Regions from separate parts of the Homo sapiens genome. Here regions 2, 3 and 4 are each linked to region 1. Evidence: fine-mapped expression QTL. A gene starts in region 1. Each other region holds a variant in brackets. All regions are shown on one strand. Distances are between the middles of the regions.

Region 1 (8,106 bases):
CCTGAACTCTGGCCATCCACACTTCTAAAGCTCTATTCCTTCCTCTTGGAGAGCAGAGCCACCAGGCTGGAGCATCCTTGCCCTCTACCCAGTTTTCCTCATTCCCTCTCATTTCAGGCCAAGCCCAAAGTGTGTTCCTTCTCTCTTACCTCTCAGACTTACCTTTGTTCTAACCTACACTTCCCTCCAGAGCCTTCTTTGTTTGCCCAGGTCTTGTATCTAGCTTTTTCCTCGCCCACCTCCTCCCCATAGACCAGTAAATAAGCCAAACATAAAGATCCTGTTATTCCCTTCCCCAACAACTTCCTTTTACCATCCAAACTTCCAAAAGGAATGTTTTGCCCAATTTCCACTTCCTCCTCAATTGCTCACTCCCTCCTTTAATCCAAACCCATGCCCTCAACACTTTTCCTACTAAATGTAACCACTTGCTAACAAATTCCCTTCTTCTCAACAGTCATGTGACACTGCCAGCAGCCTCAGTCCTTCCTAAAAGTGCCCCTGCCCTCATCTCCTTTTGTTTCCGCCATAGCCCCTCTTTCCTGCCAATCCAAAGCATGAGCATCGTTCTGTCTCCCTCACAGCTGCCACTGTGCCCTCAGTTTTAATCTCTCTGCTGGGTACCAATGACTGCAAATCTACTCTGTATTTCCAAAGAACCTCAAATCAATCTGCTGTGACCAAACTCACCAACTCATCCTTCCACCCCAAATCAACTCTCCCTTTTCATGGCCCTAACTTCTGTAGCTCCAAATTGGATTTCAAAGGCCTAAGCCATCAAAACTAGCCTTACAACCTTCAGGGCATCCCATCATTTGCTGGGGATCAATTATTACATCTAAACAAGAAAATGGGGATGTTTAACCAAAATCTGTATTCACCTCCCTGATGCTCCAACTCCTGGCTACCAAGTGTTACAGGTCTGTCTCTATGATATTCCTGGACTCTCTGTGCCCCCACATCCTCTTGTGCTGCCATAATCGGCCTTCTAACATGACTCGTGCCTCCCATTCAACAAATACAATTCTGTTGATACTGTGTACAGGGAAATTGTGCTAGACACTGGGGCTGAAAGGGGTGAGTCGTCAACAAGTGCAGCAGGAAACTTGCCCTTTAAGGACACGATGCAGGGGAGAAGCAGCCATGGAGACAATCAGCCATGGTGCCCTCTTTGTGTGCATGCAGGGACTAGGGTGTTGACATGGAAACAGAGGTTCTGCAGCAGAGTGTTACAGTTGAGATGTGATGGGGAGCAGTGCCTCAAAACAAGGGGGAGTGGGGCCCTCAGAAGCCTCCACCAAAGGCCCAGAGATGGGGCCCGAGGAGAGCTACACCAAGCTGCACCAGTCACAGTGGGACTCTGAGGCTGAACTAAGAAGCCTATGGAACACTGTCCATTGAGCCCAAGTCCATAAGGCTGGCCTTCCCGATGCAACATCCCTGTTCCACACCCTGCCAGTTGACTGTACCCCCACCCCCCAGCTGTGGGCTTCTTTGCTTCTGCCACACTGCCTGGATGGCCCTTCCTCCCTGTCTTTCCACTCCTCACACCCATGCCCCATTTCTTTCCTGTTAATCTGTTGGGTAGGACCCTTGCAACATGCTGCCTTATGTGGTCAATACTTGTACAAGCTCCTTCAAGCACACAGAAATGACTACACAGCCAGACTGTAGAAAACTGGAACTTGGACAAGAATATTGCTCCGATGATCTAACCCTCCTCAGGGGTTGAGGAAGGTGCATGCAGAAGCCACAGGAGTCCTTCAAGGGACCTCTACTTCCCTTGAGTGGCTGTGTCCCATTCTGTTTCTGAGCCCTGTCCTCTGAGGGCCCCAGTGCATCACTACCCCCCCACTTATGGTAGGGCTCACCAGGGGGATAGCCACGCTTGGGCAGCTCCACGCCCCAGGCGTCAGCCACATGGGTCAGAAGCAGGTGTGAGAGGTGGCGGTGTGCATGCTGGTCCCAGTGGACACCATCCCGATGACGGTGCTGTACTGCATGCCGGAAGTGAAAGTGGAGGTCTAGGACATCAAAGCAGTGGTCCCCGGCCAGCGTAGCACTGTAGAAGTTCCCTTCAACCACATCCCGCCGCAGGGAGCCTGCCAGGGGCTGGAGCTAAGTGAGAAAGTGCAGCCTCTAAGAGCCACAGAACGCAGCAGGGTCTGAAAGCAGGGTGTCCTATCTACCAGTCTGCTATCCCATCTCTTGTCCTGATGGGCCTCAGTCACTTGCCTCTGGCAGGAGGAAACCCCCAGTGATACGTTCCCCGAGGGGCATCGCCATGTTCCACACCAGCAGGCAGGAGTCTGGCAATACTTGGTCCATGCGCACAAACACCCGCTCCAGGTTCTCCCGGTAGCTCTCCATTGAGCAGCGACCATATCTGTTGGATAACACACAGGGTGGGCAAGAGCACAAGGGTGGACTGCCTCAGCCGTACTTCCAGCCCCAACCAGTATTCCCCTTTCCCTCGCCCCAACCTGGAGAGATCCCAGAGGCAGGAGTTGATGATCACCAGGTCCGGGGCAGGTCCATATGTCAGCTCTTCCAGAACATCCTCAAGGTACTCGGAGTAAACACGAGTGAGGAAGTAGAAGCGCACAAGGTGGTGGCCAGAGCCCGAGCAGAACTGGCGGACCTCACGATACTGTGTCCCGTTGTGCAGCTCGCCCAGCTGGCCCCCAGCCACCAGCTGGTCCTGTTCAAAGCTCAGCTCCCCCTACCCACCCCCCCCACCCTACTGGTCAGACCCATGCCAGGGAGGAGAACCCTGCCAGGCCAGGGTCTGTGCCCACCCACCACTGACATGGCCACCAAGCTTCCCTCACCTTGGCTTTCAGCTGGGCAGCTGTGAGCAGTGAGTCTTTCTGGAGCAAGAGCACCAGGTCCTTGTACACAGCCCTCTGAACTGGGAGGAGACAGAGATCCCAAGGCTGAGGCAGACCTCAGCCTGCCCCAGCTCCTTCCAAGTCCAGGACCCCATTTTCCCAGGGCTGAGGTGCCCGACACCAGCTCTGTGGTTGACTTAGACGCAGGAGAAAAGATGAGGTTAAAAAGTCCTGGCATTGCCTCTGTTCTGTGTGCCTCCTGGCCAGCAGTATACAGTGACCCAAGATCACCTGGCAGAAATTAAGTCGGCCAAGTCACCCAGGAGACACACTACACAATGCAACGCTTTCGTGATGGAAATTATGGGGAGCTGTCAGGGCGAGAAATGCTGAGCAAGGATGGGCTAAAAAGTGCACAGGTTATTACACCTGTCAGGACTCCTGTGGAAGATGTGTGGGACATAAAAAGAGAAAACCTACTGGACGGAACAGACCAGAAGACAGACAAGAGATGTGAGATGGAAACAAATGGTCCAGACACACTGAACGGGCTGCAAGGTGTGGGACTGGAAGCGTCACCCTAGAAGAGGCACTCACTGGAGTCCCCCAAGATGACCACGAACTTGTTGTGTAGCAGCTGCTGGACTTCCGAGGCCTGGAAGTGGACCATGTCGCTTCGCAGCGGGCGGCGCGGCTCCTCGCTCGACAGACAGAAGACCATGCCGCCACCAGCAACGACAGGCTGCAGGGAGAGGCCACTAAGCAGCGCGATGGTGGGGACTCTGGGCAGGTCAGCCTCAGGGCTAGCCCCTCCGGGGCTGCTCAATGCTAAAGGGAGGAGGTGACGGCAGCAGAGCCATGGTGGCGCCAGCCTTGGTCACACTTGGTACCAGAGGCAGGGGGTCGTCCAGCCAGCAGGCCTCCAGGGCACTGGGGAGCTTCCCGCGCGGCGCCGCCCTGCGCCTCGCCACGTGCCCGCCGCCGTCCCGCGCATGCGCGCACCCGCTCGCGCCAATTACCAAGTCCCGGGGCTCCGCGGTGTTCACCCGCGACCCGGGTATGCCTGCGCACCGCGCGCCTGGCCCGCAGCGGGCTCCTAGCCAAGCCTCATGTTCCCGCGCCCCAGTCGGCCAGTCGGTTCTGCAAAGCTCCCGCCCCGCAGAGACCGTGGGTCCAGGTTAGCCGTCGGTGCACAGCCCAGCGCCCAGCGCTCTCCATGCGAGCGTCGCTGTGGCCCCGACGGCGCCTCAGGCCTCGGCGCCTCGGGCTGCGACGCTCACAGCTTCCACTTCCGTTCACCCATGTCCCGCCCTGAGCGACCCCCAGTGCCCGAAGGGAAAGCAAGGCGATGGAGGTGGCCGCCACAGGGCGCAGGAGCCAGGGCTGGGCCCACTTGGCGGGCGCGAAGCCCAGGTACGGGCTGGGGTCTCGGGGCGGCAGCCAAGTGAGGCTGCCCACAGTGGTGATGGCCGCGGCGGCGGCCTCGCCACGTGACCCGGACGGGCGGAAGCGGAAGTGCCGGCCTGGAGCCCGCTCTAGGTGGGTGTCCCCTCGGTGCTTCCCAGCTGCCGTCTGCACCAGCCATGGACTGCTACACGGCGAACTGGAACCCACTCGGGGACTCTGCCTTTTACCGGTGAGCTGCCCCGCCCTCCCGCCCACGGCCTGGCTTACCCTGCTCGCCCGCCGGCTGGAGTCTCCCGGCGGCGTTCGCCCCTGTCACTACTGGCGCTGGGGTCCGCCCCGCGCCGGCTCTCCCCGAGCGTCTGCCACTTAGCGCACAGCCGCCTTTGGGCAGGGAGCCGGGCCTTCCCCTGCTCCAGAAAAGGAAACTGAGGCAAGCACAGTGGTCACCCCGAAGCCCAGGTCTGTTAGCCTCCGGAAAGATGCTCAGATCTCGCTGAGGGAGGCAGCTCGCGGGTGACAGCGAGTGCCCAGTCTCCTGCCGGAAAGTGCTGCTGAAGTCAGACCACAGGGGCGCTCCGAGGGGGGCGGGATCGCACGGCGGGCGGGGTAACAGTGCTGACCAAGGCTGGGAAAAGGGGGCGAGTCGTCCGTGAATCCCGGAACAGCGGAAGTGGGAACCCCTGGGTTAGGGCAGCCCGCCCATGGGAGTTGTAGAGTCCTAAACCACGGATTTTTCTAAAGTGTAAACCCGTTACATCGTTACCCAGATTAGGATTTTCCCATAGCTTCCCTAATAGGAAAAACTACGAACTTCTCGTGGAACGTCTATCTGTAAGGCAGCCCGTTTGTCTCTCCAACCTCATCTACCGCTCTCCTACCCAAATCTTGCGTTCCAGCTGCGCAGAATTACAAGGCCCTAACCAGTCTGCAGTTTCTGTGGATACTGCCATTTCTCTCTTTATCTCACTGAAGAATTTTGCGCATCCTTCAGGACTTAGTAGTTCAAGGGTTCTTTCTGGAACTGTGCCTGATTCTCCCCCAATAGAATCCTGTGGGCCTCACTGGGCCCAGTGCTAGGGTCTTTTAGGTATGGTCTATTTGTATATTTAGGCGACATTTGTATAGGTTTCTTCTGCTAAACCAGGCTCCTTCAGGGCTGAAAGCATTTTTTTTTTTTTTGACAGAGTCTTCCTCTGTTGCCCAGGCTGGAGTGCAGGGGCACTCGGCTCACTGCAACCTCCGCCTCCCGGGTTCAAGGGATTCTCCTGCCTCAGCCTCCCGAGTGGCTGAGACTGCAGGCCCCTGTCACCACGCCCGGCTAATTTTTGTATTTTTTGCTAGAGGTGAGGTTTCACCATGGTGGCCAGGCTGGTCTTGAACTTCTGACCTTAAGCAATCTATCCACCTTGGCCTCCCAAAGTACTGGGATTACAGGCGTGAACCACTGAGCCCGGCCAAAAGCATGTTTCTTGCTTCTCTTTATCACCAGTGCATATTTAGAACAGTGCTTGCTATGTAATAATTGCCCATTAAAGTTTTTTAAAAATATTTTACTGGGCCGAGCTTTGTGGCATGTTCCTATAGTCCCAGGTACTGGAGAGGCTGAGTTAGGAGGATCACTGGAGCCCAGAAGTTTGAGGGTGTAGGGACCGATGTTAGAACCTGTGAATAACCACTGCACTCCAGCCTGGGCAACATAGCATACTCCCTCTGAAAAATTAAAAATATTATTTTAGGCCAGGCGCAGTGGCTCATGCCTGTAATCCCAGCACTTTGGGAGGCCAAGGTGGGTGAATCACCTGAGGCCAGGAGTTTGAGACCAGCCTAACCAACATGGTCAAACCCTGTCTCTACAAAAATTAGCCAGGCATAATGGCAGGTGCTTGTAATCCCAGCTACTTGGGAGGCTGAGGCAGGAGAATCGCTTGAACCTGGGAGGCGGAGGTTGCAGTGAGCCAAGATAGCGTCATTGCATTCTAGTCCAGGCAACAGAGTGAGACTCCGTCTATATATAGATATATCTATCTATATCTATCTATAGATAGATAGATATAGATAGATATATAGATGTATCTATATATATATAGATACATCTAGATGTATCTATATATAGATAGACATATGGATGTATCTATCTATAGATACATATAGATGTATCTATCTATAGATAGACATATAGATGTATCTATCTATAGATAGACATATAGATGTATCTATCTATAGATAGACATATAGATGTATCTATCGATAGATAGATGTATCTATCGATAGATAGATAGATGTATCTATCGATAGATAGATAGATATATGTTATGGATTGCAAGTAAAGATCACAAAGACATTGCATGGGGGTCTTACTTAAATAGAAGACATTTGTTTGTGCTAATGAAACTGTATACCATTCTCACTGACATATTAAAACTTTTAAATGTAATTTTTGGTACCTAATGTGATATACTTCCTAGATGGACAAGTGCCCTGTGGCAGTTTTTAGAGACCTGTTGCATTTGTTGTTTATTTATAATTCTCTCTTAGAAATATGCCTGTGCAATTGGCCGAGCGTGGTGGCTCACGCCTGTAATCCCAGCACTTTGGGAGGCTGAGGCAGGCAGATCACGAGGTCAAGAGTTCGAGATCAGCCTGGCCAACATGATGAAACCCCGTCTCTACTAGAAATACAAAAATTTGCCGGGCGTGGTGGCACACACCTATAATCCCAGCTACTCGGGAAGCTGAGGCAGGAGAATTGCTTGAACCTGGGAGGCGGAGGTTGCGGTGAGCCAAGATCGCACCACTGTACTCCAGCCTGGGCAACAGAGCAAGACTCCATCTTGGGGAAAAAAAAAAAAGAAAAGAAATATGCCTGTGCAGTATGAAAAAATTGCAAAAACTTCATTAAAAATCCATAAATGCAGTAGGAAATGATTTCAACTTGTTTCTGTGGAGAAGGAATTTCAGCTGACCAAGGTAGCCATGTCATTTAGTATTTACACACCAGCTAGTTGATACAACATTCACTTTTAAAATATCAACTTTACTTGTATTATTTTGAAGATACCTGTTGCCTACCCAGGCTTATTAAATCAAAGAGTACTGCAGACATTGACCTCATTACCACAGAGCTCTTATTTGTCAGATGTAGTCTTTGCTTTGTTGACATGTTAATAAGGTTTTAAAAGAATGTATGTGTTGGGTGCATGCCACAGACACAATCTGAATGATTAATCTACTCTTACCTGTGCTGTACTGCCAGAAAGGATTAGGGGTCTAAGGCTTGCTGGGGAGGATATTTATGTTTTAAGTTGCTAACAGCTATTGAGCCTTTCTTATGTACTAAACATGCTAAGTACTTTATGTGTTTTAACTTGCTTAAGCCTTACAATCCCATGAGGTAGGTACCATCTTACTGATGAGGAAGCCGAGGCACAGAGAGGCCAGGTTATACAACTAGTGACCAGGTTACACAGCTATTGAGTAGTGGAGTCAGGCTTTGAACCCAAACAGGTTCTAGACCTCTGTTAAAAAATAGGGTTTTGGGGGCGGGCAGGTTAACAGGAAAATATAAGAGCATGTTTCACCTTTTCCACCAGAATGGAAATGCTTTAAGAGCAAGTACTTAGTTTTGTTCATATGTGTGCATAGCTTTATGCATAGGCAGGACTTGATACATGTCTGAGTCAGTGAATGAATGATAAAACAGGTGGCAGACATTACATTTCAAGTCCTATCTGCCTGACAGGATTCTTTTGTATTGGGAGTAGTATTCTGGAGAACCCACTCAATTTGGGAAGGCAAGGAGGAGAAACGGTGACCAGTTCTTATGGGACTCCAGAAGTTAAGCTATTTTTTTAATCCTAAAAATGCAACT
Region 2 (8,106 bases), 190 kb after region 1:
GGTCAAGGTTCTGAGGTGGACCCAATATGAGTGTCCCTAAGAAGGGATTGCCTCATTGCTGACTACATAAAATAAAGCAGTAGAATTTGAGAAATTATACAAACAAGAAACTTACAGTCTAATATTCAGTAATAAGGAAATCTTTTAAAGAAAAAAGCCCTCAGGTCTATTAAAAAGCAGAGCTGTCCGGAAACTCATACTAAAAAGGGACACTAGCAGTCCCCTAGGTCAACTTCCTCTCAGTATAGGAAACCTCCTAATATTGTTCCTGAGTCAGAATCATACAGCCTCTACTAAGCACATTCAATCTCAGGGATATCTCCCTCACCCCCCACATTATGGGGGGACCCAGTCTGTGTTCTGACAATGCTTATTCTTTTAAAAATTATTTCTGTTGAGGTTGCACATTGCAGCAAATGAGCGGTTCACTATGTCTGGGGTGTCACTTAGCAGGGATGAGAATCTAGAGAATGGGCCTGGAGAGAAGCTAGCAAGGCCTGGTGAGAAAATTCCTTCTAAGCCACAGTGAAGAGTTTGGTCTTCCTAAAGCAATTGAAGAGCCCTTGACAACATCCCATTTGTGTTTTTTAAAAAATCCCTCTGGCAGCAGTGAGAAGGACTCATTAGAAATGCGAAAGCTGTGGCAGTAATGCTGGTGGCCTGGACTCGGGTGGTGAGAGGGTGCTGTCCCAGAAAGGGTGAAGTGAGGAGGAATTAAGGATGGCACCCACTCATGACTCATTGAATTTATAGTCAAACATTTAAAATACAAAGTATGTTTTACATTAGTTGTCTCAAGTCACTAGTTGTTCCCCATCTGTACTTGTGTTAACTTTGGTACAAGGCTTTACACATATTTTCTCACCCTGATGTTTCATTACATCAGGATTTTTTTTTTTTTTTTGGTTTTGTTTGTTTGTTTGTTTGTTTGAGAGAGGGTCTCACTTTGTCACCCAGGCTGGAGTGCAGTGGCACGATCTTGGCTCACTGCAGCCTCAACCTCCCAGGTTCAAGTGATCCTCCCACATAGCCCTCCAAGTAGCTAGGACTAAAGGCACGTGCCACCATGCCCAGCTAGTTTTTGTATTTTTTTGTAGAGACAGGGTTTCACCATGTTGCCCAGGCTGGTCTTGAACTCCTGGGCTCAATTGATCCACCCACCTGGTTGACCCAAAGTGCTAGGATTACAGGTTTGAACCACCTTGCCCGGCATTTTTTTCAATTTTGATCAGTCATTTAACTCATTAGCTATTCTTCCTAGACTTGTATCATGTACCTAATCAACAGACATACTTTGTAGGTCTTCATCATCTTTTTTTTTTTTTTTTTTGAGACGGAGTCTCTGTCACCCAGGCTGGAGTGCAGTGGCACAATATGGGCTCATTGCAACCTCTGCCTCCCAGGTTCTGGCAATTCTCCTGCCACAGCCTCCCTAGTAACTGGGATTAAAGACACCCACCATCATGCCTGGCTAATTTTTGTAGGCACGGGGTTTCACCATGTTGGCCAGGCTTGTCTCAAACTCCTGACCTCAGGTTATCTGCCTGACTCAGCCTCCCAAAGTGCTGGGATTACAGGCGTGAGCCACTGCGCCCAGTGTCTTCATCATCATTAATAACAATACTGATGAGGTGGGAGGTTCGGTTAAGGTGCTTGGCTTTGCACTCAAGGAAGCACACACCTGAGTAACAAAAGCTGTTTAGGAAATGAGCCACTGTGTTCTCAGGAGCTAGGTGCCTGTTCCTGCCGTCTCTGATCAGTCGTGATGGAACCTGCAGATCAGACCAGGGCCCTACCTGTGGTTCCTTCTGCACCCCTGCCCTTCAGATCTGTGATGGGCAGGACCAAAGAGCAGGCCGAAGAGCTGGAACCACGAGCACAAGGACCATCTCGGCCCACTGCCCTGTGATAAAATGTGGCCCAGTGAACATCTCCGCCTCTGTCCAGTCAGATGCAGGCTCTTCCATCCTTGAAAAGGACCTAGTGAGAGTAAAGGGCAGGGGGCAGGAAGCATTTCATGTGTGTGGCGGTGGGGAGAAGAGTCGTGCGCACACAAATTCTGCTGCCTGTTGAGTGAGGCCTCTCCCTCTGCCTTCCACTGTAGCTTATGCTCTGTCTTCCTAGGCCAGTGAAGCAGACAGTAGTGCTTGCCCTCAAAAGCTTCTGAGTGGATTGGAACAGGATGTTAGTGATGTTCTTTACAAGGCCTCACTGGCCCCCAAGTTCACTTTCTGTTCCATTCATGTTGTCAAGTGTAGCTCCCAGAAGTAATTAACGCACTAAGCCTAAATGATGCAATGAAAGGTGCCTACACTTATACAGTGACACTACCATCCTCACCTACAATATTAAGTTCCCAGAGAAAAAAATTCGATCCCATAATATAAATTCTGTACTTACAAATTAAAATCTCGAAGGAATTAAAAATTTTTAATTATCTCCCTCTGCTTTTTTTTTTTTTTTTTTTTTTTTTTTGAGATGGAGTCTCACTCTGTCCACCAGACTGGAGTGCAGTGGCACAATCTCAGCTCGCTGCAACCTCCACCTCCAGGGTTCAAGTGATTCTCCCACCTCAGCCTCCCGAGTAGCTGGGATTACAGGCATGCACTACCATGCCCAGCTAATTTCCATAGTAGAGACAGGGTTTCGTCATGTTGGCCATGCTGGTCTCAAACTCCTGACCCCAAGTGATCCGCCCGCCTTAGCCTCCCAGAGTGCTAAGATTACAGGCATGAGCCATTGCGCCTGGCCTCCTTCTGCTCTATTTTAATCAAAAGGGTCCACCAGGATGCCTGGGTTCCCTCAGCAGCTGCAGCTTGGACCATCATCAGCCTGGGCAGACAGAGCAGTGCCAGGAACTCCCATGCTGGGTCAACCCTAGGCCTAGCCCAACCCTAGGCCTCATCCTGCTTCTCTAAAGCATAGTGAAACCTGATAGCATTAGTCTTCACAAAGCTGTGTGTCCCCATCACCATGTCCGCCTTAGACCTCATAAGAGACATAAGACATAAGAGACTTCATGCTATCTGGTGGAAAGACAAAGTAGGAGAAAAGACAGAAAACCTTCCCTGTTTCACTTCTTTAAGATGCTATTATCTAGAGGCCGTAACGTGAACACACAAATCTGAGATGAAACTCCAGTCCCCAGCTTTTCTTCTACTGGTCTTGAATCCCCATTCCCCATCTTCTGTCCCTCACCCACTGATGACTTTAACACCTGGCTTACTGCTCCTTTTGAGCCCCTGTTCCTGACTCTGCTTTTGGAGGCATCAGTCACCATGTGGATGATCCATCTATCCTCAATCTTTCTATTCCTCAGCTTCCTCAGCCACCTGATCCCATGGTCAAGTCACCATCTGCCCTGTATCTGCACTGCCCTTGGAATCTCAACAAGGCATCCGCCCTGTTTACTGCCTCCTTCCTCCCACCTCAGTATTCTCTTTTATTCCAGTCATTTTTGTCTTCATCAAGTCCTTAGAGTTATTGATGCCTCCACTTTCTCAACATCAGTCACACCGAACATGTCCTCACCTTCCTCCTTACTCTGTGTGTTTTTGAGTTCTGTTTTTGAGCGTTTGAGTTTTCTGATTTGAGTTTTTGTGGTATGTCATTATTACCTTTCCTTATTCCCTCATGCTTTCTTACTTTCATAGCAAACTCTCTAGTAAAACCCAGTTATATG[C/T]CTCTATCTGATATAGCAAACATCACTGGGCAAAAACACAAAACAGTGCCAAATGCTCTCACACTGAACTCATGACCACAAATCTCATAGAGGTAATTGGTGCCACCTAGCAATGCTATTGCTCTTTCTTTTCTTCCTGAAACCTCCAGCATCTGCTCTTGCCTGTCCCATCATACTCACACCTTAGCTTGTGACCTGGCCTCATTCTTCTCCAAGAAATCAGACAAGAACACTGTCATCCTCCCACCCCCAAACAACCAGCCTCTTCAAATCTGTACCAACTCTATTCTCTCTTGTTACAGTGGAAAAGGGTTTCTGCATCTCTCAATCCACCTGTCCACTGTGCTCTTGGCCCCATTCCGTCCTGCCTGCTCAGGGATGTTGCTGCTATAACCATCTTCTCTCCCACCTCCATCAGCAGTTCCCCTCTTTAACCACTACTCTCATCAGCCTATACATGTTACATTTCCTATCTTTTAAAAACAAAAAATCTGCTAATCTCACTTTCCCTTCCACCTACTATCCTATTTCTCTGCACCCCTTCCCAGCAAAACTCCTTTAAAGAGTTGGCTTTCGGCCGGGCGCGGTGGCTCACGCCTGTAATCCCAGCACTTTGGGAGGCCAAGGTGGGCGGATCACAAAGTCAGGAGATCGAGACCAGCCTGGCCAACATGGCAAAACCCCATCTCTACTAAAAATACAAAAATTAGCTGGGCGCGATGGTGCATGCCTGTGATCCCAGCTACTCGGGAGGCTGAGGCAGGAGAATCGTTTGAACCAGGGAGCTGAAGGTTGCAATGAGCCAAGATCGCGCCACTGCATTCCAGCCTGGTGGCAGAGTGAGACTCCATCTCAAAAAAAAAAAAAAAAGAGTTGGCTTTCTCCCTGCAAGTTCTCTGTTCGCTCTGTTCCTTCCAGGCTTGGCCCCACTGGGACTGCTTTAGTCAAGATCACCAGTGACTGTCCTCTTGCCAAATCCAAAGGTCATTTCTCTTTTCTGATTTTTTTTTTTTTGTCCTTACAGCAGCATTTGAAAGAGTCAGTACCTCCCTCCTCTTCCTCAGAACACTTACTTCCGTAGCATCACCCCACTCACTAACCTGGCAGCTCCTTTGTTATTTCTTTGTGACCTCCTCCTCTAAAACATTGGAGTATACTAGACTCGGGCGCTAGCCCACTCTGTTTTCTTTTGACACACTAGCCCTTCAGGATCTCAGCCAGTCCTATGGCTTTAAGTACAACCCATATGCCAGGGATCCTCAATCTGCGTCTCTAGGCCAGTCACCTGTCCCCCTTCCCAATGTGGGCTCCTGATTTCCTCCTTCCCCCGACACCAGTCCACCCCACTCTTAGCCATCTAAATAAATAGTACCACCTTCTGCCCAGTTGCTCATGTCTAAAATCCGGGAGTTACCTTCCTTCCTCCCCTCTCCTCACCCCTCACATCCAGTCTGCCACTGAGTCCTGATACAGGCAGAGCCTCCCCACTTTTCTCCAGCGTAACTGCTGTCATCTGAACAAGCCCTCGTCTCTCACTGCTTGCCCGTGGGACTGTGGGCATGACTCATATGCGCAGCCTCGTCTGCAGTGGCCTGGCAACTGGTCCTCCTGCTCTCATCCTAACCCACTTTTAGTTTTTCAAATGGCAGCTGCTGGTCCTTTTGAAAATATAAATCATTGTCACTCCTTGTCTTACAAATCCTGTTTGAGGCCAGGTGCGGCAGCTCACGCCTGTAATCCCAGCACTTTGGGAGGCCGAGGCGGGTGGATCACCTGAGGTCGGGAGTTCGAGACCAGCCTGACCAACATGGAGAAACCCCGTCTCTACTAAAAATACAAAATTAGCGGGCATGGTGATGCATGCCTGTAATCTCAGCTACTGGGGAGGCTGAGGCAGGAGAATCACTTGAACCCGGGAGCCGGAGGTTGCAGTGAGCCAAGATCGCGCCATTGCACTCCAGCGTGGGCAATAAGAGTGAAGCTCCATCTCAAAAAAAAAAAAAAAAAAAATCCTCTTTGGTCTTCCAGAGATCTTGAGAGAAAATCCGCCCATGTATACAAAATTTAGAGACTTTTGATCAGATGTGGTGGCTCACGCCTGTGTAATCCTACCACTTTGGGAGGCTGAGGCAGGTGGATCACCTGAGGTCAAGAGTTTGAGACCAGCCTGGCCGACATGGTGAAACCCTGTCTCTACTAAAAATACAAAAATTAGCTAGGCATGGTGGCGCACACTTGTAGTCCCAGCTACTTGGGAGTCTGGGGTGGGAGAATCACTTGAAACTGGGAGGCGGAGGCTGCAGTAAGTCAAGATCATGCCACTGCACTCCAGCCTGGGCGACAGAGCAAGACTCTCTCAAAAAAGAAAAAAAAAATGAGACTCTTAGTGTTGATACCTAGTCCCTAGACTTGATATGTATTTCTGTCTGAGAGATCATGCTCAATTCCTCCAGCACACACACACTGTGGCTCACACCCATGGGGACCTTATGGTTCTGATGGTTTTAAAGGCCCAGTCTTCATCCCAGCTGAGACACTGTGTAAAGCAGTGTTGAGAAGGCACTGTGGTAGCAAAATCCATTCCACCCACCAGTGCCATAAAAACTAATATAATGCCTGATCGAGGTGAGCCTTAATGAGAATTTTTTTTTTTTTTTGGCTGTTCTGGTTGAAGAGAGGCCCAGGGCACCGATCCCTGAGGCATCCCCAGGGCTTCTAGAGAACATGGGTGGAAAAGCACTAGTCCAGGGCATGTTCTTGATTCAACACTTTAATAATCATGATTTTATTTGGACTGTGAGACTATTCACAATTTCTTTTTCTACTTAATTTTTTTCCAAATCTTTCAATGACATTATATGTATGGTTGAGAATTTTTCAATTGCCAGTAGTGAAGAATCTCAGATCTTACCCCCAAATTCTCTAAAGAAATGGGCAGCATAACTGTGTGATGTTATATTTATGTATTTATGCCTTGGCTTGTTCTGCAGACATTGAACAAATTCATTTACCAGATACTGAGAGCCTACCATGTGCCAGGCATTGTGCAAGGTGTGGGGAATACAGAGATGAAAAGAGACGCAGCCACTCCCACAAGGAGCTGTAGAGGGAAGTGAGCCAGGTGCAAGCAAAGACAGACAGTAGACCACCTCCTGCTCACTAGCAAGGACAGAAAGGCGAGTGCTAGCAACTTGAAGGTACCTTGCAGATCAAAGAGATAAAGGTAAAAGGGAGAAAGGATACTGTGGCCTGGGCGGTGGTGAAGCCCATGGCTGTGTGGGAATGTGAATTGGTTCTGATTTTCTGAATTAGCAGTCTGGCGGATGTAAGCAGCATTAAATATGAAAACACCCCATGGGAGAAAAAGAAAGGAATTGGAACAAAGATTTTCACTCGTCCTCCTCTCCCTGCAGCCACCAAGTATTGGATACCCTGTGAGCCTGTAGTCAGAGTCCTTTACAGACCCCGGCAGTGTTTTAGATGGTCTCTGGTGAGGATCGGAGGTTAATTGGAATGATGTGATATAATGATCCTGCAAGTTTTCAATACCTTGGGGACGAAGCGTATCAGCGTAAGAGGTGGCTGTACTGAGAGGGGTCAGGCTGCTCGTGGGCAGTGCTGCTTCTACACATGTGGTACTCTGAGCTCCTCACCTCTCCAACCTGTCTCTCCAGGAGAAGTGTGCCCAGTACTGGCCATCTGATGGACTGGTGTCCTATGGAGATATTACAGTGGAACTGAAGAAGGAGGAGGAATGTGAGAGCTACACCGTCCGAGACCTCCTGGTCACCAACACCAGGGTAAGATGGGTCGTGGGTGGACTCTGCCCACAGGAAAAGCAGGGTTACCCCTGCCTCCCTGATCCCCTTTTTTCCAAAGGAGAATAAGAGCCGGCAGATCCGGCAGTTCCACTTCCATGGCTGGCCTGAAGTGGGCATCCCCAGTGACGGAAAGGGCATGATCAGCATCATCGCCGCCGTGCAGAAGCAGCAGCAGCAGTCAGGGAACCACCCCATCACCGTGCACTGCAGGTATGGCTCACCCTTGCCCTCAGCGGGAGAGAGAAAGCGAGGAGGGGCAGATAGGGGAAGCTGATGACCATGGGTCAGACTGAAGAAAGCCATACAAGAGCAAGATATTGGTGAGCACATAGTAGTTGAGATTGATGCCAAGACAGGATTGGATGCTAAGAGAGAGGACCTTGGAGCTTGAACTTGGCACAATAAGTGCTAGGGGACTAATGTTCAGATAGTGGGCAGGAGAGCAGCAGGGGAGACTGGCAGTGGAGACCCCGGTTGTGCTATGAACAGAGGGTGAAAGAGAAGAGGAGTCAAGGGTGTCTCCCAGGTTTGAGCCTGGGTTGGTGTGACCAGCAGAAGAGAGACAGTAAAGAGGTTTGTTTGAGGGGAAAAGTTGAATTTTGT
Region 3 (8,106 bases), 50 kb after region 1:
TTTCATGCAAACCAACTGTAAAAAGTTATTTATGAGCCCATTGGGAGTAATTTAAATTTGAAAACCACTTGTATATTAGATGATTTTTAAACAATTTTAATTTTTTAAAGGTTATTATAGTAGTATGGTTACATTAAAAAGAAAGACTCCTTTCTCTTACAGATAGGTACTGAAGTATTTTGGATGAAATGATGTTGATATCTGGAATTTGCTTTAAAATAATTCAGCATGTTTGGAGGATTACAGACGAGACAAGAATTGCCATACGTTGATAATTATTGAAGCTGGATAATAGGTATATAAGGGTTTATTATAGTATTTTCTCTACTGTTGTATATGTTTGAGAATTCCCATAGTAAAAAATTAAAAGAGAAACCACTGTAAGGGAAGAGTTTTAGTGGATTTCATGTCCATTTGTTAGAAATAGAAAAATGTGGCCAGGCACGGTGACTCACACCTGTAATCCCAGCACTTTGGGAGGCCGAGGCGGGCGGATCACCTGAGGTTGGGAGTTCGAGACCAGCCTGACCAACATGGAGAAACCCCCGTCTCTACTAAAAAAAAAAAAAAAATACAAAATTAGCCTGGCATGGTGGTGCATACCTGTAATCCCAGCTACTCGGGAGGCTGAGGCAGGAGACTTGCTTTAACCTGGGAGGTGGAGGTTGCCCTGAGCCGAGATCGCACCATTGTACTCCAGCCTGGGCAACAAGAGTGAAACTCTGTCTCAAAAAAAAAAAAGGAAAAGAAAAAAAAGAAAAAGAAATAAAAAAATGTAGTATCTTTGATTAATTTTCAAAAGTATATCACAGAAGATAGATATTTGCTAGCCATATTTAAAAGGAAATATTTGTATAATGGGGGTGAAAAAATGATTATCACAGTTTAGTAAACACAGCCATAGTGCTTCTTCCTTTGGATTCATGTTTCTTTTTGGTTATGATAGCATTAAAACTTGGAATCAGGCTTTTAAATTGCTCTATAATATATTAAAATGAGATTTTTCAAACATAATGAGAAATATTTAATCATATGGATTGCACTAAAATATTTTTAAGATGGGTTTTACATTACTATTTTAATTGATGGAAGTACCATTATTGTGATCATTATGTATTTCATTTGAAATGTTTTGTAGTATTTATAGGTATTAGTACCTGTGTTCTGTTTATAAATGAACATGTGTTGGGGATGTATACTCTTATTTATTGGTGGATGTGCAGTAAAAGGTTTGTTTGTGGAGAACGGACTGGGCAGGGTATAGAGACTTATTTGATGTTTATTAGAGCAAATGTGGCCAGTGATGATGGTGTTCTGGATTGGCTTAGGGTGGGAGGAGTGGTGATAGGGATGGAGATACATGGACAAGTATGATTTAAGCAGTAGAGGCATTAGGGTTCTAGATTTCTGGCTTTTTGGAAGAGATGATTGCTAGTTAATGAACTGAGCTTTTGTGTGTGGGAAGAAGTTGAAACCTGGCCCCTGTGAATTGTGCAAGTAGTTCTTAAATATTGATTGACAAATAGCTTAACGAGCAACTAATTTTCAAATATTGGTTGACAAGTGGCTTATTACAATATTGTAAATGCATTGATACTACCATTAGTAAAGAGAATGTCTTCCTTTGATAATGTTAGCAGCACTGTTACCAGAGCAGTGTGGGATAGTTCCAGGACTTTCACTGTCTAAAAGGAACTGGAGGCCCAAGCTTTTACGGGGATACTTCTGCTCTCCTGGTTCCCATGTCCCCAGTGATGTGAATGTCCCTGACTCAGTGCCTCTGCTCACGCTGTCTGTGAGATCACTGCCTTCCAGTGCCTCTTACCTCTTGGGCCTGCCCACTTTGTTAACAGGGACAGATTTCACAGTGATTTCCAGCCAGTATTTCTCTCTCCCCAGTTTGGGGTGTTAGCTAGAATGGTCCCTCAAAGCCCTCAAACACGGATGAGAAATAGAAGAAGCTCAGGGAGACTATACCTGGGCTAGGTTCTTGCTACCAGCTGGTGGAAGACAAAGAAAACCCCTTTTCTTCCTGTATTTCATGCCCAGTGAGCAGTAGTGCCATCAGCAGCAGTTGTGAACCCCTAAATCAGTGATTCTCAATATGACTGACATGGTGGGGAAGACGTAAGTTTGAAAATGCATTTTCAGGCTAGGTGTGGTGGCTCACACCTGTAATCCTAGCACTTTCGGAGGCCAACATGGGAGGATCACTTGAGCCCAGGAGTTCGAGACCAGCCTGGGCAACATAGTGAGACCCTGCTTCTACAGAAAAATAAAAGCTAGCCAGGTGTAATGGCATGCACCCATAGTCCTAGCTACTTGGGAGGCTGAGGTGGGAGGATTGCTTAAGCCCAGGAGATCAAGGCTGCAGTGAACATACCACAGCACTCCAGCCTGGGCAGCAGAGTGAGACCCCTGTCTCAAAAAGAAAAAGCATTTAAAAAAAAAAAAGGTTTGTTAGTGTTTGTCTCAAAATTTTGCTTAATTTAAAATTATGTATATATTTGAATAATATGTGTCCATGTTAATAGTTCTAAAAGTATATATAGTATATATAGTAAAAGGTAGTTTTCTCTCCCCCTGCCTTTCAGCTTTCCCTTTCCATAGGCATCCACAAGTACTATGAGCAATACTTGTGAAACCATGCTGAAATACTACATGCTCATAAAATGTAAGTTACTTAAGTTTGGTATTTCAAGTAACAATAAGGGAAGATAGGAGAGTTTTATGTTTATCAAAAGGGGTGAATGTTATAGCAGATTGAGATGAGATGTTCTTACCTTTGGGTGGGATCTTAAGTGGAGCTCAATTCGGTTTCCCCAATGTTAGTGGGAGAGATTACTTAAACCATCCATACTTATCCAGTTGTACTTGGTAAGTTTTCAAAGGTTCTACTTTGAAGAGGGCTTTTGTTGAGCAAGTAGTGGTTAATAGAGCAGCTCAGTTACATGTGTAAGTTTTTTGATGTGGGAAAAGGGCTTTTGTATACAGAAGGACTATTTTAAAATTATTTGGGCTTTAAATTAACATGTATTAAAGTGGTAAATTTAAAACCCAGTTTTCTTTTAGTCTTGTTATTGTACTTGTAAGCATAGGCATTTTGTATAGAAATAAGAATAGTAATTTTCACCTGCTTGTCAATTAAGTTAATATAAATTTAACAGATTTAATTGCTCCAGGCCCCTTACTTAGTGAATTAAATTTCCTTAGATGTTTAAAATACATTTACACAGTCAGTCTGTCAGGCACAGTCAGTCCTTGACAGGTCAGAGTTACCACCTTAAACAGAAACTTCTTAAGCTCTTGGGCAATCTGTGATACTAAGAAATTAAATTTGTAAATGTAGTAAAACAGGTTTTGGTTAAGACTTCCAGTGCTTTTCATTAGCTGAATCTGAATTACCAACATTTAAAAAACACATACCCTAAACTTAACGCAAAAGTACTACTAGTACCATGAGTTTGATATACCATACCTCATTTTATTGCTCATGTCTTTTCTTTCTGGGATTGTGATGCCACTTACCCAATTAAGGAGGACAGTTTTATCATCTCAGAAAGCCATGGTTATCAGATTAAAAATACAGAATCATGATACAGTTATTATTGGTCAGAGATTTGAGACTGGGAAAGGGAACTAAGGGGTCTGTGTTTCCAGGATAATTCTACTCAAGAGATGCTGTGCCTTTCCTTATGTTAAGAGTCCTGAATGTGGCATCAAAGGGGGAATCCATGTTCAGAGTTTGTTTTGCAACCCCCCATACCTTTTTTTGAGACAGGATCTTGGTAGGTTGCCCATGCTGGTGTGCAGTGGTGCAATCATGGCTCACTGCAGCCTTGACCTCCTGGGCTCAAGTGATCCTCCCGCCTCAGCCTCCTGAGTAAGTAGCTGGGACCACAGATGTACGTCATCATGCCCAGCTAATTTTTTGATTTTTTTTTTTTTTTTGTAGAGATGAGGCCTCACTATGAGCCTAGGATGATCTCAAATTCCTGGCCTCAAACAGTCCTCCCGCCTCAGCCTGCCCAAGTGCTGGGATTACAGGCATAAGCCACCATGCCTGGCCTTTTCTTCAAAAATAACCCTTCAATCAATTTTTTTTTTCCTGGTCAAATT[G/A]GATTTTGTGTTTCTTTTATATATTCCTTGTCAGGCCCTACAGTTATTTTAATTTTGGGTGTTGGATAGACTAGGGTTCATATTCCATGCCTGCCATGCTTTTTGTGAACTTGGGCAAAATAGTTAGCTCTTCTGAGACTCACTTTTGTCACCTAGTAAATGGGTTCAGCTGTAGTACTCTATGTATTTGTTTGTTTTAAGCATTAGATAGTGCGTGGTAAATGCTTAGCACAGTTCTTAGCACATAGTAAATCTTTAATAAATGTTAGAAAATATAATGATCTTGATTCTCTGTCTTCCCTCCCTAGTAGTTGATTTGGGGCACAGTGTAGCATTATTTGAATTATCACAGAATAACTTTTTACCTTTCTGATTTTAACAGGGGAGAGTGTGTAAAGGATGGGAGAGGGAAGAGAGAAAAAAGCTGAGTAAATGTGATCAACTTTACAGTCTTTATTCCCTGAACTATCTTTCCCTGAGTTATGTGACACATTCTCCTTGTTTTCCTCTTTCTATCTTTGTGGCCACTCCTCAGTTCCCTAGGCCCCTCTTCTTTGACCACTCCTTGTTTGAGTTACCAAAGATTCCATCTCTGGCCTTCTTGTGTTGATTCTACACGTTCTTCCTGGAAGCACATGTCCATGGTTTCAGCTTCCTTGCTAATTAGGAGAAACTTTGTCCTCAGAACCCATCTGGATTACAGCCAACAGCCTACTGGTCTCCATTGGGCTATCTCCCAGGTACCTATAACAGTCTCAGAACTGACTCATCTTCCTTTTCAGCGTGTTATTTTTATAATCTCTATCTTGATGAATGGCACAACACAGTGACCCAAACTGGAAACTTGAATGTTGTTCATCTGGTTGGTGATCTGTTCCTAACTGTTTTACATCTGTAACATTTCTCAAATTTGCCTATTTTCCACCATTTCTCCTATCCCTTAATTCAGGCTGCTTCTCACCTAGATGACTGCTGCAGGTTCCCTTGTTGTCTACTCATTATTAGTTTCTCATTCCAAGTCATTGATTAGATGGCTGCCAAAAGTGATCTCTTTAACTTCCCAACTTTAGATTCTGTGAATAAAATCCAAACTCCTTAACAGAGCAGGCCCTCATGATCCAACTCCTCTTAACGTTGGTAGCCTTATCTTTTCTCTGAGCCCACTGCCGCTTGATCCTTGGTGGTGCTGTGCTCTTTCTTGCTCTCTGTCTTTGGTTGGACTGCCCACCTCCCTCCTTCTTACTTGACATTATAATTTATCAGATAGAGATCAGCTCCTCCAGTCAGCATTTCCTTACTGACTACTCCAAGTCTGACCCAGTGTAGATTCTGTGCTTATATCTGTCAAGTCACTTATTGTATGATAATTCATACACTTATATGATAATTCACACATTGGCATGTGTAGATTAAACATTTATAGTCTCAGAAGGATCCTGATAGTCCAAAAGGTATAGTAATGCAGTTGTCTCTTAGTATCTTCAGGTGATTGATTCCAGGATCCCCCCCATGGAGATCAAAATCCAGGGATACTCAGGTGCCTTATATAAAATGGCATATTTGCATGTAACCTATGCACATCCTCCTGTGTACTTTATAGGCCCTAAATAATCTCCAGATTACCTATATGGCTAAAACAATGCAAATACTATGTAAATAGCTGTTATACTGTATTTTTAAGTTTGTTTCTTATTTTATGGTTTTATTTGTTTATTTTTTTGATCTGTGGATGTGCAACCCACAGATAGAGAGGGTCAACTGGGCCGGGCGCGGTGGCTCACACCCGTAATCCCAGCACTTTGGGAGGCTGGGGTGGGAGGATTGCCTGAGGTTAGGAGCTCGAGACCAGCCTGGCCAATATGGTGAAACCGTGTCTCTACTAAAAATACAAAAATTAGCCAGGCATGGTGGCAGGTGCCTGTAATCCTAGCTACTCTGGAGGCTGAGGCAGGACAATTGCTTGAACCTGGGAGTTGAAGGTTGCAGTGAGCCAAGATCCTGCCATAGCACTCCAGCCTGGGCAACAGAATGAGACTCTGTCTCAAAAAAAAAAAAAAAAAAAAAGAAGAGAGGGCCAACTGTATGTAATTTACTGAAGCATGGATTCACATTATAGATGGTCCCTGATTTATGATGGTTCAACTTATGATTTTTATACTATGATGGTGGGAAAGCTGGTGTGATATACGTATTCAGTAGAAATTGTACTTCCAATTTTGAAATTTGATCTTTTCCCAGGCTAGTGATATGCAGTGTGACAATTTCTCATGGTGCTGGGCAGAAGCATTGACCCACACCTCCCAGTCAGCCATGTGATCAGGAGGGTAAATGAGTATACTCCATGGTGTACTGTGTTGCCAGGTGATTCTGCTCAACTGTATGCTAATGTGAGTGTTCTGAACACATTTAAGGTAGGCTAGGCTAACTATGGCATTCGGTAGGTAAAGTGTGTTAAATGCATTTCCTACTTAAACGATATTTTCAGTTTATGGTGGGTATATTGGAATATAGCCCCATTGTAGGGCAAGGAGCATCTTTATTTACCCAGTTGAGTTTAGTGGCAGCAGAACTAAGTTCGGTTTAGCTGTTCAGTGAGCCAAGCCTCACTTAGCATCTAATTCTGTCTTTATTTTCTGCTTTAGATAGGCCACAGCTCTCCTGAAGGGATTAAGACTTTCTGTGTGAAAAATGGTATTCAGAAGGAAGCCAGCATTAATTCTGTTTTTATACATTTATGAAGATTTGAAGGAATTTCACTGTCAATTCTGTCTTAATTGTATTCTGTATAATAAATCATAATGGTATCCAACGGCTCTTGAAAGGTTTGGTTTTTGTGAACATTTCTTTGAATGTCAAAGTTGTATTAGTTTGTTTCTCAATTAAACTGGGTGCTCTTTGAGGGCAGGGATTTATGGGACTTGTTTGTTTTGCAGTTTTATATCTCCAGCTGCTAATGCAGTGCCTGGTTTGTAGTAGGAATGAGAGATTTACTCCAATAGAACCATACTAAAGATCTTACACTTATGGATTACAGTTGATAGCTTTGTAGAGTGAACTGGTATTCCCTTTAAATGAGACGACATGACCTGAGTATAAAGTATAATCAACTACATGACTCCAGCAAGAATACCATGTGTCCCTCAGATAGCATAGCTGGCAGATGGAGTTATGCACATCAACTGGACATTTAAGACAGCTGGAGATTTCTTACATTTAGATGACAGTTTAGATTAGAAATATTTAATCTTAGCTGTACTTAATATATTATGTAGCTATATGATACATCATGTATATATGGTATATCATATATATCATATATTTAATCACATTTAATCCTTAGCTATATTTTCATCCCCAAAATGGTATATGGATCTGTTTTTATTGTCAGCTGGTTATTTATTGTTGCTTATCCATGGCTCATGAAAATCTTCATGTTACTTGGGAAATCTTTCACTCTGCCTTTTGAAGGACAGCCCAGAACCATTTCCTTCTTGGCACATGACCTTCTAACCCAGTGACCAAAGAGTATGTAAAAGCATGGTACACACTGCTTTTGAAGATTACGTGTGTCTATTCTAGATGTGTCTTATTTCTTGCAGATATATTGCCTACAAAGATTTTGATATATATATATACAGTAGACTATACTATATAATTAATATTTATACCAGATATTAAATATATAAGCATTCTACTAGAACTAAAGTTAAGAATTTGAAATAGTCTCATGTGAGTAATTAAAATAACAATAGCATCTTTTTCAAGAAAGTTTTTTTTAATATGGTGGAGATAATGACATGGAAAAAAGTAGTTAATTATTTTTGGTATTCCCGTATTTCATCAGTAGGTTGCCATAGAACATAATAGTTATATAATCAAACAGCAGAATAATTTTATATGAGGTTTATTGATACAGAAATGTTTGGTTCAGTGTTTGTCTTCCAGTTTTGCAGATTTTCTTTTCGATTTTAAAACTGGAGAATACAT
Region 4 (8,106 bases), 120 kb after region 1:
TATAAGGGAGGGGTCCAGCGTTATTGTTTCACGTGTAGATATACAGTTTTCTGAGTACCATTTGATGAAAAGGCTGTCCATTGAATTGCTTTTGCAACTTTTATTTGGGCATATTTATGTGAGTCTGTTACTGGTTCTATATTTTACTCCATTGATCTATGTGTCTATTCCTCTGCTAATACTGTCTTAAATATGGTAGCTATATAGTAAGCCTTAACACTGAGTAGATAGATTTCTCCCCTTTTTTTGTTCTTTTTCAAAATTGTCACTGGTTTGTTTTTATTTTTTACTTTATGCAGATAATCTGTACTATACTTTGGTTTCATGTATCAAGTAGTTTGTTCCAAGTTGTGCTTTAAGCAGAACAAATAAATTTTCATATTGTTCTTTGTGTTAATCTGCAATATAAACCTATACCAAATTCTATTTTGTGTATTTGTTTATTGTAGTAATCTGACTGACTCTTTTGCCTCCAGACTCATCTCTTTCAAGGTCCCCAACTGAATCTTGTTTTAGGTGGAACTTAGAAGCAGTAGAAGTTAAGAATCTATTTCACAGCCTTAGTAGTCTAGTTTCATTCTCTATATAATGTTGTCTATGCAAGTGAGCTGCTCTCCAGTGCCTTAGTTTCACTAATGTTGGGGAAGGTCTCTTCTCTTGTTTTGGACTTCTCTATCACATTGCCTTTCTCAAGAGAAGACATATAATGAAAGTTGATATCTGGTGTTCTAGGACTTCTTCAGAAGCTTGCCAGTTTTTCAAGCTGATTTCTCTCACTGGCAACTCTTCAGAGTGCTGTTCCTACTCCACCCTCCCCTGGTGGTATGTATCAGTTTTCTACTCATCAGCACCCACCTACTCCTGCCTACTGTGTTTCTCAGATGTCTGCTGCCTGGCTAGCTCATTGCTGCTTTTGTCACTCATAGAGCTGTCTTCTTCCCTTTTTTTGGCTTTCTGCCTGACTTCCAGGGCAGCTGCTCTGTCATTGCCTGTCTGCCATTCTGTCTTTTTTCCCCCTACCCCCCACAGATACAACATCTACTCTAATACCACACATTCTCCATGTTCAAACTAACCTCATCACTTTCCCCACCACATTCCCCAAAACTGGTCATCCTCCAGCTTATAGCATTGCAGTTCACTGAAGTTAGACATCTGGGCCTTGCTTACCTCCAACATCTCATTAGCCTTCGATTCTACCCCTATAAATCCTCTTCTCAGTCTCCTTTAGATATTCCTGCCCTGCTGTGAGATCCATCTGGTTTATTGGCTAGATTACTTCAGAAAGCTTCAGTCAGTGACCCTCCTTACTTCAAACCCCACCAGTTGATCCTTCACTCTGCCATCAGTCATTGCTTCTAAAATCTAAATTGTTCCATTTAACCTTGCTGTGATAAAACCTTTGGTAGTTCTTCAGTGTGTTCAGTGGTAAGTTAAAACTTTCACTGTAATGTACAGGCCCCTTCATGATATGATCGCTGCCTCCTCGAGCCTCATTGTGTGCATTTCCCCGCCCCACCCTTTCCTCACCCACCCTAGTCTTTCATGTCTGCCATTTTTACATTCATTTAGCAGATATTTATTGAAGCCCCCTGTGATGTCCTTACCTAGGTCTTTCTTGTTGCCAGGACCAGACAGGCTTTTTCAAGCTTCCAAGTCATCTCAGTTTGAAAGACTATGTCTGACCCTTGTCTTGGCCAATTACTCTTTATCCTTCCAAGTTCAATGATTGTCCCACTGCACTCCAACCAGAGTGAGAGAGCAAGACCCTGTCTCAGTAAATAAAAATAAATAAATAAATAAATAAATAAATAAATAAATCAGCCATAATTTATTTAATCATGTCTCTCTCCCCCATTGATAGACGTTAAGGGTATTTCCAGTATTCTTCTCTTGAAAACAATGCTACATTGAATAACCTTGTACATGGGTCACTTTGAAAGTATGGATATGTATCCGTGGAATAAGTTTCCAGAAGTGGAATTGTGTCAGAGGGGTTGTGCATTTGTAATTCTGATGAATATTTATAGATTATATGAGAGTACCTGTTTACTCAAACTCTTGCCAATGCAGCATTATCAAAGTTTTTTATGTTCGCCAGTGTGATAGATTAAAAAATGGTATCTCAGCCAGGCGCAGTGGCTCACGCCTGTAATCCCAGCACTTTGGGAGGCTGAGGCGGGCAGATCACGGGGTCAGGAGATCGAGACCATCCTGGCCAACACAGTGAAACCCTGTCTCTACTAAAAATACAAAAAATTATCCAGGCGTGGTGGCGGGCACCTGTAGTCCCAGCTACTCGGAAGGCTGAGGCAGGAGAATGGCATGAACCTGGGAGGCGGAGCTTGCACTGAGCCGAGATCGCGCCACAACATTCGAGCCTGGGCGACAGAGCGAGACTCCGTCTCAAATAATAAAAAAAAAAGATGGTATCTCAGCATTGATTTCTTTGATCATCAGTGAGGTTGAGCATCTTTTCATAGATTTAAGAGAACTGTATGGTTTTTTGTGAGTTATGTTTCATATCGTTTACCCATTTTACTTTTAGGCTGGAAGCAGCTGTTTTAGTGGAATGGTGGAACAAGAAGCCAGATTGCCATGGAGAGACAACTCTTTCTAGAGATTTGGCTATGAAGCAGAGTAGAGACAATGATAGCTGAAGGATTGATGTAGATGCAAAGAAATTTTTCATCTTCTTTGAAAACTTAATTGTGTTAAAAACTGGTATGAAAGGGAGGGGTTAAAGCTAGAGATGGTGGTAGAAAAAAATGCAGGGTTCCTAAAGGACTGAGATTCCTGGATGGAATTTCAGGGAAGGGGAAAATTTCTGGATATAGTGACTGGGGAGTTAAGGGTGTCTAGTCCAATGGCTTTTATTTTCTTGGAAGGGTAGGCAAGGCCAACAGCCACATGTGTGGGAGGAGATGGTTAGAGGGGAGAGGAGGTTTGAAGGCACCGCTATGGAGAATTGGAGAGAGCTAAGGAAAGACAGAAAGACTGCAGAAAGTGCTTAGGGTTCCACTGAAGCGGAAATAGTGATTTGTAGTGATACAACCCTTATGAGTTATTTGATTTTTTTTTTTTTTTAAGCAGCATCTGGCAGTCCAAGTATAGGGCTGACAGTTTGGGATTTTTCTTTCCATGTTGGTGTAAAAGAAGAACAGTGTAGTGAAGGAAGTTAGGACAAAAGAATGATTGAACTGACACCAAGTTTTCTTGATTTGGTAGAAAAGGAAATAAAGATAGAGCAGAGATATTGAAAAGAATTAGAGAGGGGTTCAAGAGACTGAAGGCCTGGGTGAGGTCAGAGAGCAGGTGTGGTAGACATAACAGAGAGAACTACAAGGATAGAAAGTGTGGTTGGAGAGTGGGAAGGCAAGATTTATTCAGTATGGGGGCTTTTCTGGGTGATGACAGCATCTGGAGTACAGCCATTGTCGTGAGTGGCCCAAGTGTAGCAGAGATAAAGCGTTGTTGGAGTGAAGGAAGTCAAGGAACTGAGAGGCTGGCCTAGATGGGGATTTTGGTTGTCATCCATGAGGATATTGAAGTCATCCAGGAGAATAGCAGGCCTGGGGGACAGGAAGGAAACTGAGCCACTTACAGTGTCTTCAGTGATAGGAAAGCACAGGGCAAAAAGCTTTCAAGAACAGGGACTGTTAAGCCGGGTACAGTGGCTCACACCTATAATCCTAGCATTTTGGGAGGCCAAGGCGGGTGGATCACTTGAGGTCAGGAGTTCAAGACCAGCCTGGCCAACATGGTGAAACCCCATCTCTACTAAAAAAAAAAAAAAAAAAAAAAAAAAAGAAATACAAAAATTAGCCAGGCATGGTGGCACGCGCCTGTAATCCCAGCTACTTGGGAGGCTGAGGCAGGAGAATTGCTTGAACCTAGGAGGCGGAGGTGGCAGTGAGCCTAGATCACACCACTGTACTCCAGCCTGGGCAACAGAGCGAGACTGTATCAAAAAAAAAAAAAAAAAAAAAGAACAGGGACTGTTAGAGCAGGCTCCAGGAGAAATGCTTTGCATATGGCATTCTTGAGGAGTGAGGAGGACCTCAACCCTACTTCCTGAAATGGAGCTCTGAGATGTTGGAGTAGAAATTTGGAAACCAGAGAGAGAAGTAAGGATAGTGTTGTTGCAAATGCATTGTATATGGGGGGTCGGGAAGTCACAGGAGTTTGCCTCAAAGTCTTTCTCGGAGACGGATGAGGTTTTCACTGTGATTTTCCTGGTCGTGGTCTATGGATATAGTACCTGTTAGTGACATGGATCTTCTTAACTTCTGATGTGTCTTTTCCTCCCTAGTGTACGCATACCAATTCTCTCCACAGCTTCCATCACCATGCATTTGTTCTTTTCCCTTGTTCTTGTATTACCTTTCTGGAAAGGAATTTTTATTGTAGGCTAATTGTTACTCCCACCAGTATTTAACCACTGGATATTTCATATGATTGATCTCTTCTGATTTGGAAAATAAAAATGTAATCTCATTATATTCATTTGATTAGTGGGGACAGTCAACACTTCTTTGTGTATTTTCTTAGCTGTTCGTTTTTCTCGTCTGTAAATTATCTGTTTAGGTCCTTCAGATTTTTCAAAATTGGACTGTTATGTTTTCAGTATTGTTATGAGTTCTTGTTTCAATTATTTATGACAGTTCATTTTCTTTTTTAAAATAGACTTTTTTTTTCTTAGAGAAATAAGAAAAAATAAAAATTAAAATAGACTTTGTGTTTTAGAGAGTTTCA[G/C]GTTCACAGCAAAATTGATCAAAAAGTATGGAGAGTTCCGGCCAGGCGCGGTGGCTCACACCTGTAATCCCAGCACTTTGGAAGGCCAAGGTGGGCAGATCACAAGGTCAGGAGTTTAAGACCAGCCTGGCCAATATGATGAAACCCCATGTCTACTAACAATACACAAATTAGCTGGGTGTGGTGGTGCACACCTGTAACTGTACCTACTCAGGAGGCTGAGGCAGAAGAATCTCTTGAACCTGGGAGGTGGAGGTTACAGTGAGCCACAGTCATGCCCCTGCACTCCAGCCTGGGCAACAGAGTGAGACTCCGTCCTAAAAAAAGAAAGAAAGAAAATATAGAGCATTCCTAAATACCACCTGTCCCCAACACCTGCACAGCCTCCTCATTATCCACATCCTACACCACTGTGGTACCTTTGTTGCAATTGATGGACCAACATTGACTCCTCATTATCACCCAAGCTTTGGTGTTGTACATTCTGTAGATTTGGACAAATGTATAATGACATGTGTCTACCATTGTAGTATCATACAGAAGAATTTGACTGCCCTGACAGTCCTCTGCTCCACCTGCTTACTCCTCTCTCCCTTTTCCTAACTGCACAACCACTGATTTTTTTTTTTTTTTTTTGAGACGGAGTCTCACTCTGTCCCCCAGGCCGGAGTGCAGTGGCGCCATCTTGGGTCACTGCAAGCTCCACCTCCCGGGTTCATGCCATTCTCCTGCCTCAGCCTCCCGAGTAGCTGGGACTACAGGTGCCCGCCACCACATCCGGCTAATTTTTTGTATTTGTAGTAGAGACGGGGTTTCACCATGTTAGCCAGGATGGTCTCGATCTCCTGACCTCGTGATCCGCCCACCTCGGCCTCCCAAAGCTGGGATTACAGGCATGAGCCACCACGCCCTACCTTTTTTTTAAAAAACAAGGTCTTGCTCTGTCACCCAGGCCTGAGTGCAGTGATGATCACTCCTCACTGAAGCGTCGACCTCCCAGGCTCAAGTGATCCTCCCACCTCAGCCTCCTAAATAGCTGAGACTACACACACACACCACCATGCCCAGCTAAGTTTTGTATTTTTTATAGAAATGTGGTCTTGCTGTGTTGTCCAGGCTGGTCTTGAACTCCTGAGCTCAAGCAATTTGCCTGCCTTGGCCTCTCAAGGTGTTGGGATTACAGGCATGAGTCACCGCACCTGGCCTTTTTTATTTTCTTTTTTTTTTTTTAACCAGTGATCTTTTACTGTCTCCATGGTTTTTCACATTGGCTTCTGTCACTTAGTAATATATGTTTAAGTTTCTTCTACGTATTTTCATGTTTTTAGCTTATTTCTTTTTAGCAGTGAGTAATATTTCATTGTCTGGATGTGCCATCACTTATTTATCCATTCGCCTGCTGAAGGATATCTTGATTGCTCCCAGTCGTGGCAATTATAAATAAAGTTGCTGTAAACATCCATGTGCAGGTTTTTTTTAAGTGGCATAAGTTTTCATCTCATTTGGTTAAATACCAAGGAGCACAATTGCTGGATCATATGGTAAGAGCTTATTTATTTTTTTGAGAGACTACCAAGCTGCCTTCCAAAGTGGATGTACCATTTTGCATTCCCACCAGCAGTGAATGAGAGTTCCTGCTGCTCCATATTCTTACAAACATGTAGTATTGTCAAATGTTTTGGATTTTAAAACCAAAATCCATTTTCATAGATGTGTAGTGGTATCCCGTTTTAATTTGCAATTACCTAATGACTTGATGTTCTGTGTCTTTTCAGATGCTTATTTGCCGTACTGTTTATCTTCTTTGGTGAGGTGTCTCTTCAGGTCTTTTGCCCATTTTTAATCTGGTTGTTATTTTTCTTGTTGAGTTTAAGAATTCTCTGTCCTTTGTCAGATCTATCTTTTGCAAATATTTTCTCCTAGTCTGTGGCTTATCCTCTGATTCTCTTGGCATTGTCTTTCACAGAGTAGACATTTTATATTTTAATGAAGTCCAGACTATCAATTATGTTCTCATGGATCATGCCTTTGATGTTATATCTAAAAAGTTCTCGCCATACCCAAAGTCATCTAGATTTTCTCCTGTTATCTTCTTGGCATTTTATAGTCTTATGATTGATATTTAGGTCTATGATTCATTTTTAGTTAAATTTTTGTGAAAGATAATAAGGTCTGATATGGATTAATTTTTCTATATGTAGCTGTCCCTTTCCAGTATCATTTGTTGAAAAGACTATCTTGCTCCATTTTATTGCCTTTGCTCCTTTGTCAGTTGACTATATTTATGTGGGTCTGTTTATGATCTCTGTTCCGTTCCATTGATCTGTTTGCCTTTTCTTTTGCTAATACCACAGTCTTAATTACCATAGCTTTAAAGTAAGTCTTGAAGTCCAATAGCATTAATCTTTGACTCTTCTTTAATATTGAGTTGCCCCTTCAGAATCTTAATGTCTCTCCATGTAAACTTTAGAATCAGCATTTTTATATTCACAAAATAACTTGCTGAGATTATGATTGAGATTGCATTGAATCTATAGGCTTATTTGGGAATAACTGACATCTTGACAATATTGAGTCTTCCTGTCCATAAACATTATTTATGATGGGCTTCTTCTTTATGTTTAGGAGCTTTTGTTTTTTCTGTCAGATATTCCACTTCTACCTTTATGATTTCTTAATTGCCTTTTATGCTTAGAAAGTTTTTCCTCATCCTGAGCTCACATATTCATTTATTTTCTTTTAAAATGTGTTTTCAAGCATTTAATTTTTAAACCTATGTGGAATTTATTTTGGTATATGGAATGAGGTGGTGGTCTAACTCCCTCCTCTCAAATATGTAGTTATTTTTCCCAAAACCATTTTCTATTAATTTATCAAGAATAGACATGTATACATATACATATATAATAGTCAGCCTTCCACTTGTTGTTTGACCCTTGTGAAGGAAATTGTATGAGTTTCCAATTTTGGATTAGGCTCAGGTAGTAATTGAGCTGGGTTCTGCCAGAGATCCATGTTAATTCACTATCCAAACAGAGTTATAAAATGTAAGTTTTATGAAAATCTAACAGTATATCACTGGTTTAATGATCACAGCCTAGGAAGAATGGGGAAATTGTCAAAATCTTCTGTGGATGCACCTGAAGGCCACTGCTGAACCCATTTCCCTGCTAGGCACGGCTGCTGGTACCAGGGGCAAACTCCTGGAGTATATATGAACCACCTACATCTCCTTCTCTTCCCCCCCTACCCTTGAGATTTTCATGTGTCCCTTAAGGATGTGTGTCCTACTTCCCTTGGAGAGTCACTACCACATTGAACACTTTAGACTGTGAGTCCTGTGAAGATGGG

Alleles and levels. Positions count from the first base shown, and alleles are read on the strand shown. Sizes are in standard deviations (SD) of each study's normalised expression. Not every link is listed here.
For the expression in breast of the gene that starts at base 4,385 in region 1, G is the high allele of the variant in region 4 and C is the other (moderate effect, 0.42 SD a copy in GTEx).

The links. PIP is the estimated chance that this variant, and not a neighbour inherited with it, causes the effect.
Region 2: its variant is fine-mapped to the expression of VPS16 in whole blood (TOPMed, PIP above 0.99).
Region 3: its variant is fine-mapped to the expression of VPS16 in whole blood (TOPMed, PIP above 0.99).
Region 4: its variant is fine-mapped to the expression of VPS16 in breast (GTEx, PIP 0.94).

What each region holds. Positions count from the first base shown.
Region 1 is chr20:2,836,361-2,844,466 of GRCh38, forward strand. It overlaps VPS16 (VPS16 core subunit of CORVET and HOPS complexes), which reads left to right and starts at 4,385. Exons shown (of 24, transcript NM_022575.4): 1 at 4,385-4,467. The coding sequence starts at 4,415. It overlaps PCED1A (PC-esterase domain containing 1A), which reads right to left and starts at 4,295. Exons shown (of 8, transcript NM_022760.6): 1 at 3,851-4,295; 2 at 3,429-3,573; 3 at 2,832-2,911; 4 at 2,484-2,722; 5 at 2,236-2,386; 6 at 1,872-2,118. The coding sequence starts at 3,552. RefSeq lists enhancers at 1,821-2,120, 3,597-4,128, 4,662-5,193.
Region 2 is chr20:3,028,229-3,036,334 of GRCh38, forward strand. PTPRA (protein tyrosine phosphatase receptor type A) reads left to right here. Exons shown (of 24, transcript NM_001385305.1): 21 at 7,357-7,482; 22 at 7,562-7,713. Among named protein-coding and RNA genes, the nearest start is that of GNRH2, 11 kb to the right of the region's middle. The variant C/T (reference allele first, on the strand shown) is at 3,683.
Region 3 is chr20:2,886,128-2,894,233 of GRCh38, forward strand. The region is part of intron 1 of PTPRA (protein tyrosine phosphatase receptor type A); the gene reads left to right. Among named protein-coding and RNA genes, the nearest start is that of PTPRA, 17 kb to the left of the region's middle. The variant G/A (reference allele first, on the strand shown) is at 4,120.
Region 4 is chr20:2,954,877-2,962,982 of GRCh38, forward strand. The region is part of intron 3 of PTPRA (protein tyrosine phosphatase receptor type A); the gene reads left to right. Among named protein-coding and RNA genes, the nearest start is that of GNRH2, 85 kb to the right of the region's middle. RefSeq lists an enhancer at 550-609. The variant G/C (reference allele first, on the strand shown) is at 4,756.